3 linked regions of the Homo sapiens genome follow. The protein of the gene in region 1 purifies or fractionates together with the protein of each later gene. This does not show direct contact. Each region holds a gene or a part of one and is shown on either strand. Other genes may lie near its edges.

Evidence for each region.
Region 2: the proteins of STRADA (region 1) and GC purify together in Homo sapiens (affinity purification with mass spectrometry; one large-scale study listed by BioGRID and IntAct). This does not show direct contact.
Region 3: the proteins of STRADA (region 1) and AMY1A purify together in Homo sapiens (affinity purification with mass spectrometry, with the first as the bait; one large-scale study listed by BioGRID). This does not show direct contact.

Annotation. Positions count from the first base shown.
Region 1 is NC_000017.11:63,710,694-63,714,349, reverse strand, and holds part of STRADA (STE20-related kinase adapter protein alpha), read left to right. Parts: intron 1-241; coding exon 242-344; intron 345-822; coding exon 823-944; intron 945-3,513; coding exon 3,514-3,622; intron 3,623-3,656. UniProt on the Homo sapiens protein: Pseudokinase which, in complex with CAB39/MO25 (CAB39/MO25alpha or CAB39L/MO25beta), binds to and activates STK11/LKB1.
Region 2 is NC_000004.12:71,777,555-71,781,210, reverse strand, and holds part of GC (vitamin D-binding protein isoform 1 precursor), read left to right. Parts: intron 1-3,656. UniProt on the Homo sapiens protein: Involved in vitamin D transport and storage, scavenging of extracellular G-actin, enhancement of the chemotactic activity of C5 alpha for neutrophils in inflammation and macrophage activation.
Region 3 is NC_000001.11:103,661,876-103,665,179, forward strand, and holds the end of AMY1A (alpha-amylase 1A precursor), read left to right. Parts: intron 1-781; coding exon 782-900; intron 901-1,010; coding exon 1,011-1,136; intron 1,137-2,455; coding exon 2,456-2,645; 3' UTR 2,646-2,679; downstream 2,680-3,304. UniProt on the Homo sapiens protein: Calcium-binding enzyme that initiates starch digestion in the oral cavity.

The sequences.
Region 1 (3,656 bases):
TGATGGGAACAGGTCCTTGTCTCCTCATTTGTAGACAACCCTAACACTTGCTCTGATATTAGTGCTGATTACTACCCTGAATGTAGTGTTTTGTTTCTCTTCAAATAGTGCTGGCACTGAGTCGGGATTTGTGTGTGTGTTTAGATGCCAGTCTCCTCGTGGGTCTGAATTACCACCTTCACCCCACTCCCATCCCACCCCCAGTTTTCTCTACTAACCTATTTTTCTTTTTCTTTTTTAGACCAATGATGCGAGCTCAGAGTCAATAGCATCCTTCTCTAAACAGGAGGTCATGAGTAGCTTTCTGCCAGAGGGAGGGTGTTACGAGCTGCTCACTGTGATAGGTATGTGCAGGGGCCGTCCTTACTCTCCTGCTTTCTGCTCCAGGGGCTGCTGCAGCTTTCTCAGCAGCCCCAGATGTGTGTACAGCAGAGGCCATCCACTAGTTAGGAGGATTCATGGGCACAGACTTGCTTCTGTGGGTCTTCTCTGTTTTTTTATGCCAAGTATGGGAAGAGATCAAACTTCCAGGAAAGAAGCTCTTTTGCCATCTTTCCTTTGTGGCTGCCATGTTTCCGGTGTCCTGGCCATAGTGAGTCAGAAAGGTTGGCTGAGAAGGAACTGATGAGAGAAAAATCAAGAAATGTGAGCCATGAACATAACAGTTAAATTCTGCTGGGAAAAGGAAAAAAAAAAAAGTAACAGTAGTGAAAAATTTAACATTAAGTTTCTTTTGAAATCAAGTCCCTTTTTTAAAGGAAAATTTTCTTAAAACCTTTTGTTGTTCTTGTCCTTGCGTATGGCATTCCCTTTTTCTTTTAGGCAAAGGATTTGAGGACCTGATGACTGTGAATCTAGCAAGGTACAAACCAACAGGAGAGTACGTGACTGTACGGAGGATTAACCTAGAAGCTTGTTCCAATGAGATGGTAACATTCTTGCAGGTAATAAACCATGAGTGTGTCACATGGAGGGAGGGTGGGCTCTTGGCTCTGATAGGAATTACAAGGAATTACAAAGAAATGAAGGGAGACTAAACGTTCGGAAGTTATGGAAGCTTTCAGTGGAGAATCCTGGCCATTTGGCACTAAGGATTGGGCTGAAATGCTGCTCAGCCTAATTTATATTTCCCTTTTCTTCTCCAAACACTCCCTTCTGGCTTTTTTATTCATTTATTTATTATTTAGAAAGAAGCTAAGTAACTTGCTCATGGCAGAGGCAGGATTCAAACCCAGGCCATCTTGTTCCAGACACAAGGTGCCTGCCCTGCCACCAGTGGCCATCTTCTGGCTCTCAGCCTCCTGTTTGCCTGATGTTCCTTTCTTTTTCTTTTCTTTTTTTTTTTTTTTGAGACGGATTCTCACTCTGTCACCCAGGCTGGAGTGCAGTGGCACGATCTCGGCTCACTGCAACCCCCACCTCCCAGGTTCAAGCGATTCTCCTGCCTTAGCCTCCCGAGTAGCTGGGACTATAGGCGCACACCACCATGCCCGGCTAACTTTTGTATTTTTAGAAAAGACGGGGTTTCTTCATGTTGGCCAGGCTGGTCTCAAACTCCTGACTTCAGGTGATCTGCCTGCCTTGGTCTCCCAAAGTGCTGTGATTACAAATGTGAGCCACCGCATCTGGCCTCTTTTTTTTCGAGACAGGGTCTCATTTTATTGCCCTGGCTGGAGTACAGTGGCAGGACCACGGCTTACTGCAGCCTTAACCTCCTGGGCTCAAATGATTCTCCTGCCTCAGCCCCCCAAGTAGCTGGGACTATAGGCACACCACACCTGACTAATTTTTGTATTTTTTGTAGAGACAGAGTTTCACCATCTTGCCCAGGCTGGTCTCAAACTCCTGAGCTCGAGCAATCAACTCACCTCAGTCTCCCAAAATGCTAGGATTACAGGTGTGAGCCACTATGCCCAGTCCTGACATTCCTTTCTATTCGAGAAGCAAGTAGCCACTCTCTCGTTAAACTGAGAGAGGGGGCAGGCATGGTAGCTCATGCCTGTAATCCCAACACTTTGGGAGGGCAAGGCAGGGAGATTGCTTGAGCCCGGGAGTTTGAGATTGCACTACCAAACTCCAGCCTGGGTGACAGACTGAGTCCCTGGCTCAAAAAATAAAACAAAACAAAACGGAGAGAGACTGTGAGTCTAGTAAGTGCTTGGGAGTTAGACTCTCCTTTCCTGATGCCAGCTTAGAGTCAGGGCCTGGGGCAGTTTTCCTTCAGTAGAGTTAGTTGCAGCCCCTCCCCTCCTTCATTTACAACTTTTTCTGAATTGGTGGTTACCTGATGGTGCTCTAGGACCTGTTCATCTGTTCATAGTAGTTTGGTGGGTCTGAGGATGGAGCAGAAGCCAGTCTCAGCTGGCCTTCTCCTCCATCAACTGTGTTTTCTTTTTCTTTTTTTTTTCTTTATTTGAGACAAGGTCTGGCTCTGTTGCTCAGGCTGGAGTGCGGTGGTGCAATCACAGCTCACCACAGCCTCAACTGCTCAGGCACAGGTGATTCTACCACTTAAGCTTCCCGAGTAGCTGGGACTAAAGGCATGCACCACCATGCTCAACTAATTTTTTGTATGTTTCATATAGATGGGGTTTCGCCATGTTGCCCAGGCTGGTCTCCAACTCTTGGGCTCAAGTGATCTGCCTGCCTCGCCTCCCAAAGTGCTGGGATTACAGGCGTGAGCCACCATGCCCGGCCATGTTTTCTTTTATAATAGAAACATAGTTTTGGGCTGGGCACAGTGGCTCACGCCTGCAATCCCAGCACTTTGGGAGGCCAAAGCAGGCCTAGGCAACATGGCAAAACCCTGTCTCTACAAAAAAATATAAAAAATTAGCTAGGTATGTTGACGTCCACCTGTGGTCGCAGCTACCAGCGAGGCTGAGGTGGGAGGATGACTTGAGCCTGGGAAGTTCAGGCTGCAGTGAGACGGGATCACACCACTGCACTCCAGCCTGGGTGACAGAGCAAGACCCTGTCTCAAAAAAATAAAAAAGAAAACATTTTTGGCCAGGTGCAGTGGCTTGGTGGCTCACGCCTATAATCCTAGCACTTTGGGAGGCTGAGGCAGAAGGACTGCTTGAGCCCAGGAGTTTGAGACCAGCCTGGGCAACACAGTGAGACCTTGTCTCTACAAATAACAACAACAAAATATTTTTTGTTTTCTTATCTTAAAGAGGAATTCTATACGTTGGCCCTTGAAATTGAGATAAGCTTATAACTTCAGAAGTCTTCAGTCAACAGTTTGCCTTCATCATCTCTGAGTCGGTGTGCTGGCACCCTTTGTTGTTGGCAGTTTCCCTATCTGGCAGAGGCAAAGCAGTGCTGGGTCCCTGCAGAGGCAGCAGGGCCTTGTTTTTCCTATGTTGGCAGGCACCTGCTTAGGCTGTTCCCATGACTCTGAGAACACCCAGAAAGTGCCAGGTCCCCCTATTGTCCATGCTGCCATCTTTGTGTTGAGCGGCATCCTTCAGTGCCATTTGGTTCTGACTTCAGCTTCATCATTGCTTCCAGGGCGAGCTGCATGTCTCCAAACTCTTCAACCATCCCAATATCGTGCCATATCGAGCCACTTTTATTGCAGACAATGAGCTGTGGGTTGTCACATCATTCATGGCATACGGTGAGTGGGAAAGGGTTCTTGGTAGAAAGGGGTT
Region 2 (3,656 bases), on another chromosome or scaffold:
CCCCACCCTGTGACCAAGTGTTCTCATTGTTCAACTCCCAACTATGAGTGAGAACATGTGGTGTGTGGTTTTCTGTCCTTGTGATAGTTTGCTCAGAATGATGGTTTCCAGCTTCACCCATGTCCCTGCAAAAGACATGAACTCATCCTTTTTTATGGCTGCATAGTATTCCATGGTCTATATGTGCCACATTTTTTAAATCCGGTCTATCATTGATGGACATTTGGGTTGGTTCCAAGTCTTTGCTATTGTGAATAGTGCCACAATAAACATACATGTGCATGTGTCTTTATAGCAGCATGATTTAAAATCCTTTGGGTATATACCCAGTAATAAGATGGCTGAGTCAAATGGTATTTCCAGTTCTAGATCCTTGAGGAATAGTCACACTGTCTTCCGCAATGGTTGAACTAGTTTACAGTCCCACCAACAGTGTAGAAGTGTTCCTGTGTCTCCACATCCTCTCCAGCACCTGTTGTTTCCTGACTTTTTAATGATTGCCATTCTAACTGGTGTGAGATGGTATCTCATTGTGGTTTTGATTTGCATTCCTCTGATGACCAGTGATGATGAGCATTTTTTTCATGTGTTTTTTGGCTGCATAAATGTCTTCTTTTGAGAAGTGTCTGTTCATATCCTTTGCCCACTTTTTGATGGGGTTGTTTGTTTTTTTCTTATAAATTTGTTTAAGTTCTTTGTAGATGCTGGATATTAGCCCTTTGTCAGATGGGTACATTGCAAAAAGTTTCTCCCATTCTGTAGGTTGCTGTTCACTCTGATGGTAGTTTCTTTTGCTGTGCAGAAGCTTTTTAGTTTAATTAGATCCCATTTGTCAATTTTGGCTTTTGTTGCCTTTGCTTTTGGTGTTTTAGACATGAAGTCCTTGTCCACACCTATGTCCTGAATGGTATTGCCTAGGTTTTCTTCTAGGGTTTTTATGGTTTTAGGTCTAACATTTAAGCCTTTAATCCATCTTGAATTAATTTTTGTATAAGGTGTAAGGAAGAGATCCAGTTTCAGCTTTCTACATATGGCTAGCCAGTTTTCCCAGCACCATTTATTAAATAGGGAATCCTTTCTCCATTTCTTGTTTTTGTCAGGTTTGTCAAAGATCAGAGGGTCGTGACACAGCTACAAAATTATTAAGGTAATCATGCCAACAGGAAATAAACCACTGCAGTTGATAAGAGCTGTTGGCAAAAAGAGGTTTTTATTATGAACATTTTCCTTTTTGCTTTAAGCATTTCATTCACAGCATTTTTTTTTATTAAACATGATATAAAACTGCAAGAAGAAAGTTCCCTTTGGGTTGGTGGGTGAGCTACACTTTTCCTTCTCTTCCTTCCCTGTCAAAACAGCCCTACGCAAGGGCTGAAGTCATACAGCTCTCATCACTGAGAGCAATGTTAACCTCCCTGAAAATCAATAGCAATGTTTCATCTTACTGATATCAGGTGCAATGCCACATATGCAGTCACCAATATGTAATATAAGGAGAAGTGTGCACACTCTGTAAAACACCACCAGCTTAATCTATTTAGGACAGGAGAAAATGAAGAAACCTCTAAAAGGAATTGATGATGCCCTTCCCCAGTATTTTTGGTCACCTAACTTCTTCATTCTACCCATTGCTTCTTCTCTCTCTCTCCTATTTTTCTCATTCATTCTGATCTGACCACACTGGCCTCCACATTATCTCACACTCTAAGTCCTTTGCACCCCAGGGCTTTGCATTAGTTCTTCTCTATTCCTAGAACATTGATTGTCCAGATATTCTCATAGCTCCCTTCCTCACCTTCTTCAGGCATCTACTCCAAGTCCATTTATAGAGGGGGCTTCCCTAGCCAACCTACCACAAATAACACCTACCAGTCCATTATCTTCTATCCCCTTATTTGGATTTATTTTTTCTTCTTAGCACCTAGTACCTTACCTTATCACTGGTTGTTCATTTGCTTATTGTAACAAATATAGAATGCAAGCCTTGTGAAATTAAGAACTTTTGTTATTTCCTGTAATTCCCAGTAATAGAACATTACTTGGCATTTAGTAGGTGTTCAAAAAATTATTGTGTAATATTACAAAATTGGGTTTTTGTATATGTATGTCTACCATCAGACTCAGGTTCCTTAAAGATTGGTGGCTTTAGAGTTTTCTTTCATATGATGCCATGCTCCCAGGAGATAGCTGATGTGTCTGTGTGTGTTTTTGTGTGTGTGTATAAATAGGTATGTACATAAATATATACACTCATATGTATAAAAATGATCATGAACTGGATTTAGCCAATAATAATAATAATAATAATAATAATAATAACTGACAGCAATATTCTGTTTCCTGAGGATACAATCTTCATTTTACAAATGAGAAAACTGAGGAAGAACAGAGAGGATAAGCAACTTGCCAGCGGTCTCACTATCACCTAGGGTAGCAGGAATTCAAATCCAGGTGGTCTGTATCCAAAGCCTCTATCTTAAATCATGATAAAATACATCCTCATATGGATGTTTTCTTTGGCCCTCATGGTTTGGGCCAACAAAGTTTCTTTAAGTCTGTCTTTAAAGTCTCATTTCACTTGTCAACATTTTAAAACCTGGAGATTCCACAAAAAAATCTAGATTTCTAGCTTCTCTGGAAACACAGGAATGTGTGGTAATAAGGGCCAAATTTTCACATGGCAATGATGAACTGGAGCTGAATTGTCACTCCTCCTTTTGGACTAAACCCTCAGTTTTCACCACTGAGCATTTAATGCTTTCTTCCCTTGGATCAAATGTAAGTTGTGTGGTTCCTAGATCCTATGAGCATTTGGGTTTGCTAACCTGGGTGTCATGGTAAAATAGTAACTTGAGGTTTAACACTACCTAAAGAAAATAATATTAACAAATAATTGTATCTTTACATTTAAAATAGGCAAAATAATTAGTTACCAGTCATTTTTATTCTCTATAAATGAAATCACATATGAATTGTTTAAATATGTTTACATTTAACAAATTGTGTTTTTCATCTTAGAGAAGTGAAACTTACATAACTTTTTTTTGAAAGCTGATTTAGAAAGATTTATTGGAATATACAAGGAGTGTTATGTAGTTATACATGTCTTTCACATTCATATCTGCTGATGCAGCTGAATTCCTATGTGGGTTTTATTTTGTTTTTTTTTATATATATATAAACTTTAAGTTCTGGAATACATGTGCAGAACCTGCAGGTTTGTTACATAGGTATACATGTTCCATGGTGGTTTGCTGCACCCATCAACCCACCATCTACAGTAGGTGTTTCTCCTAATGCTATTCCTCCCCTAGCCCTCAACCCCCGACAGGCCCCAGTGTGTGATGTTCCCCTCCCTGTGTCCATGTGTTCTCACTGTTCGACTCCCATTTATGAGTGAAAATATTTTTATATGGAAATAACTGTGATTTTTTTATCTATTAAAAAATACAATAGCAAGAGCACAGTCTTAGAATAACCATTTCAGTCTTCAAATTTTACTACACGAAAGTAAATTTGTTATTTTGATATTATCAGTTCTGCTGCAAATGTTAGGTAATAATTGGTTTTAAAATGAAAATACTTTTATTTGACAATTGCATACTAGATTTTAAAAAATATAAATAACAAAATACATGGTTGGATTGTTGACTAGG
Region 3 (3,304 bases), on another chromosome or scaffold:
TAGCATATGTCATGTTCAAGGCATTTTCACATATATTACTTAATTTTTATAGCAAAAGAACTCATTATTCTCATTTTACAAATGAGGAAACTGAGACACAGAGAAATTATTTATATTGATTAAATTTTCTCAGCTACTAGTAATAGAGCCTATGTTTTAATCCTGGTGTTTCTAGTACTAATGCCCTTCCCATTTCAATGCCATTGCATGGCTTACAGTGATGTTAAGAAGCCCTTGCAGGCCAGGTGCAGTGGCTCACACCTATAATCCCAGCACTGTGTGCGGCCAGCTGAGAAGGTCAGCTGACCTGAGGAGTTCAAGACCTATCTGGGCAAGCTAGCAAGACCTTGCCTCTACTGAAAATTAAAAAAAAAAAAAAATTAGCTGGGTGCGGTGGTGCACACCAACAGTCTTAGCTACTTGGGAGGCTGAGATGGGAGGTTCGCTTGAGCCTCGGAGATCAAGGCTGCAGTGAGCTACGATCATGCCACTGTACTCCAGCCTGGGTGACAGAGCAAAGAAGTCTTTGCAGTGCCTTGGAATGAAAAGGAGAGGATAACAATTTGCTACCTTTGTTTGAAATATGGCAAAAGAGAACCAGAGGATAGAGAGATGATGAAGACCCAGTAAAGGGCTATAAAAATCAATGAAGGCATTGGATTCTAGATAAAGTCACTGAATGCAGAGACACAAGTAACAGGATAGGTTGGGTTTGGTTTAAAGGAGAAGGAAGAGATAAATATATATATGCTAAAATTTGGCTTTTCCTCCTGTAATTAAGGATGTTAATGATTGGGTTGGGCCACCAAATGATAATGGAGTAACTAAAGAAGTTACTATTAATCCAGACACTACTTGTGGCAATGACTGGGTCTGTGAACATCGATGGCGCCAAATAAGGTGAGAATATGTATTTAGACATGTCCTCTAATAGTAAATTTCCGTAGCACTTTATTTAAAACAGTTGAAGTTTAAGAATATCAACGTTTTATATGGTATTGTGTTTTTAGGAACATGGTTAATTTCCGCAATGTAGTGGATGGCCAGCCTTTTACAAACTGGTATGATAATGGGAGCAACCAAGTGGCTTTTGGGAGAGGAAACAGAGGATTCATTGTTTTCAACAATGATGACTGGTAAGTAAATATCAATTAAAAATAATATTTTGTACCAGTATGTTCTTGGTTTATTCTTTTTTTTTTCTGTTCATTGACATTTATCATATCTGAAAAATCATGTAGTCAGTGGAGCGAGAAGACAATAGAGATCAAAATTGGGTAGAAGCAAAAGGATGATGGCTGTTACTCCTTCGTTCTCCTGTTTTCATAAGTGCTTTCTGTTGTAAGCAGAATCCTTTCTGTGCACCCTTGCAATATCTTATGCATATATAGAATGCACATTCATATGCTTACCTACACATGCCACAAAATACACAAAGTAATTAATAGAAGGATTGTGAAATCATTAAAAGAACGTTTCTTATAGTCCTGCTCTTTTAATCATGGAAAAATGCTGCCTCAGTACTAAAATATCTTTATTTCTCTTTTTCTCAATGACAGCTCTACCTAGTTTTTTGGTATACTTTCTTCACTTCTCTGTCTCCTTGTGACAAATAACATTTTTAAAGCATATGGATAAATAATATGTATCTTGTGGTTAATGATTTGCTTCAGGAGACTTGAGTTTTAGTTCTGAAACTTCTCATTATTGGCCTTTCATCTGTGATTTTTGTATCCTTTGGCTGTAGTATAAATGATTCCCGAAACTGTAGCTGAGAAGACCTCCTTGCAAACAGTTGAATTGTCTCTGTCCAAGGCCAACTGACACTCATACTTAGCTCACTCTAGTATAAATTATACTTCACTTATGAAAAATAAATAAATACAAAAATATATAAGTCAAGTTGATCTCTTTCCTGCCAAAAAAATGCGTGTCTATTTCCTTAGTTTCCTTCTTTTGTGGATGAAAATACCAAAAAAATCTTTTGTGAAAAAGCTTTATATTTCAAACTATCACTTCCTCATACAAATGCTAGACTGTTTTTATGTACACCCTAAATTCTTTTTGACCTCATGTAGAATAAAAGAAGGTTAAAAAAATAATACCCTTTAAATTTTTAAAGTAATTGGCATTAAGTTCAGTTGAGAAAAAATTTGATTTTACCAAGGTAGCACTTTATCAAAATGTGACCGCTCCCGCCAATCTTCGGTGATATTCTTCAACTTTGATTTTTCGGTTATATTTTCACTACTGAAAAGGAAATTGGTAGGTTTTCTGTAAGGTTACTTTTGGTCCTAGAAAGCTGTTTACACCTACTAGGGAGGCATATGGGTTTTCTTCTTAATGAGACTTCACTGCTTAGGGTTCTAAAACATAAAGTTATGCTGTTTATTTGTGTTAGTCTGTATTCTTGATTTCATTGTTTTGAAGTTAAATCTGAAATTTTATTTTACAGGACATTTTCTTTAACTTTGCAAACTGGTCTTCCTGCTGGCACATACTGTGATGTCATTTCTGGAGATAAAATTAATGGCAACTGCACAGGCATTAAAATCTACGTTTCTGATGATGGCAAAGCTCATTTTTCTATTAGTAACTCTGCTGAAGATCCATTTATTGCAATTCATGCTGAATCTAAATTGTAAAATTTAAAATTAAATGCAAATCCGCAAAGCAATAGCTAAGTGTGTTTCTTTTCTTACATATACAGTAATAGTTACATATCATTAATTTTAAATAAAAGCTCTAATTAGTAAAAAGAGGTTTAAGACACTTGATAGTATGAAATACAATTCCAGGTTACACATAAGTTATTTATTTTGGCAAAAGGATGACTCAAAAATTTTAAAACTAGGCAACAATCTTTACTCATTAAGAGGTAAGACTTAGCTTTCCAAACAGTTTGTCTCCTGTCTACTCTTTTCTCTCCTTGGCATTCTACCAACAAGGCAAACCAAATATTTCATTATTCTTCTCTATTACATGAAAAATCTGTACAAGGGAAGGAAAGCCAAATTTTACCCTTACATAGGTTTCAAAAGAATCCTTTTTCCATAGGCAACATTTACATTTTTATGCCTTTTTATAATCTTTTACCACAAACACATTTAAGTGTTCCTACACACCTTGCATGTAAATTTATTTTTAGTTGTCTTATTTACATATTTTTATGGTCAATCTTAGCAATTTTTAACTTTAATGTAAACCTGGTAAGTTGTTTTAATTATGTACTAGATGCAGATAAAGTCTGACTTTTTCCATTCTAGTTAGGGCATGGTTAATTTCATATGTCCCCAGGCCTTAC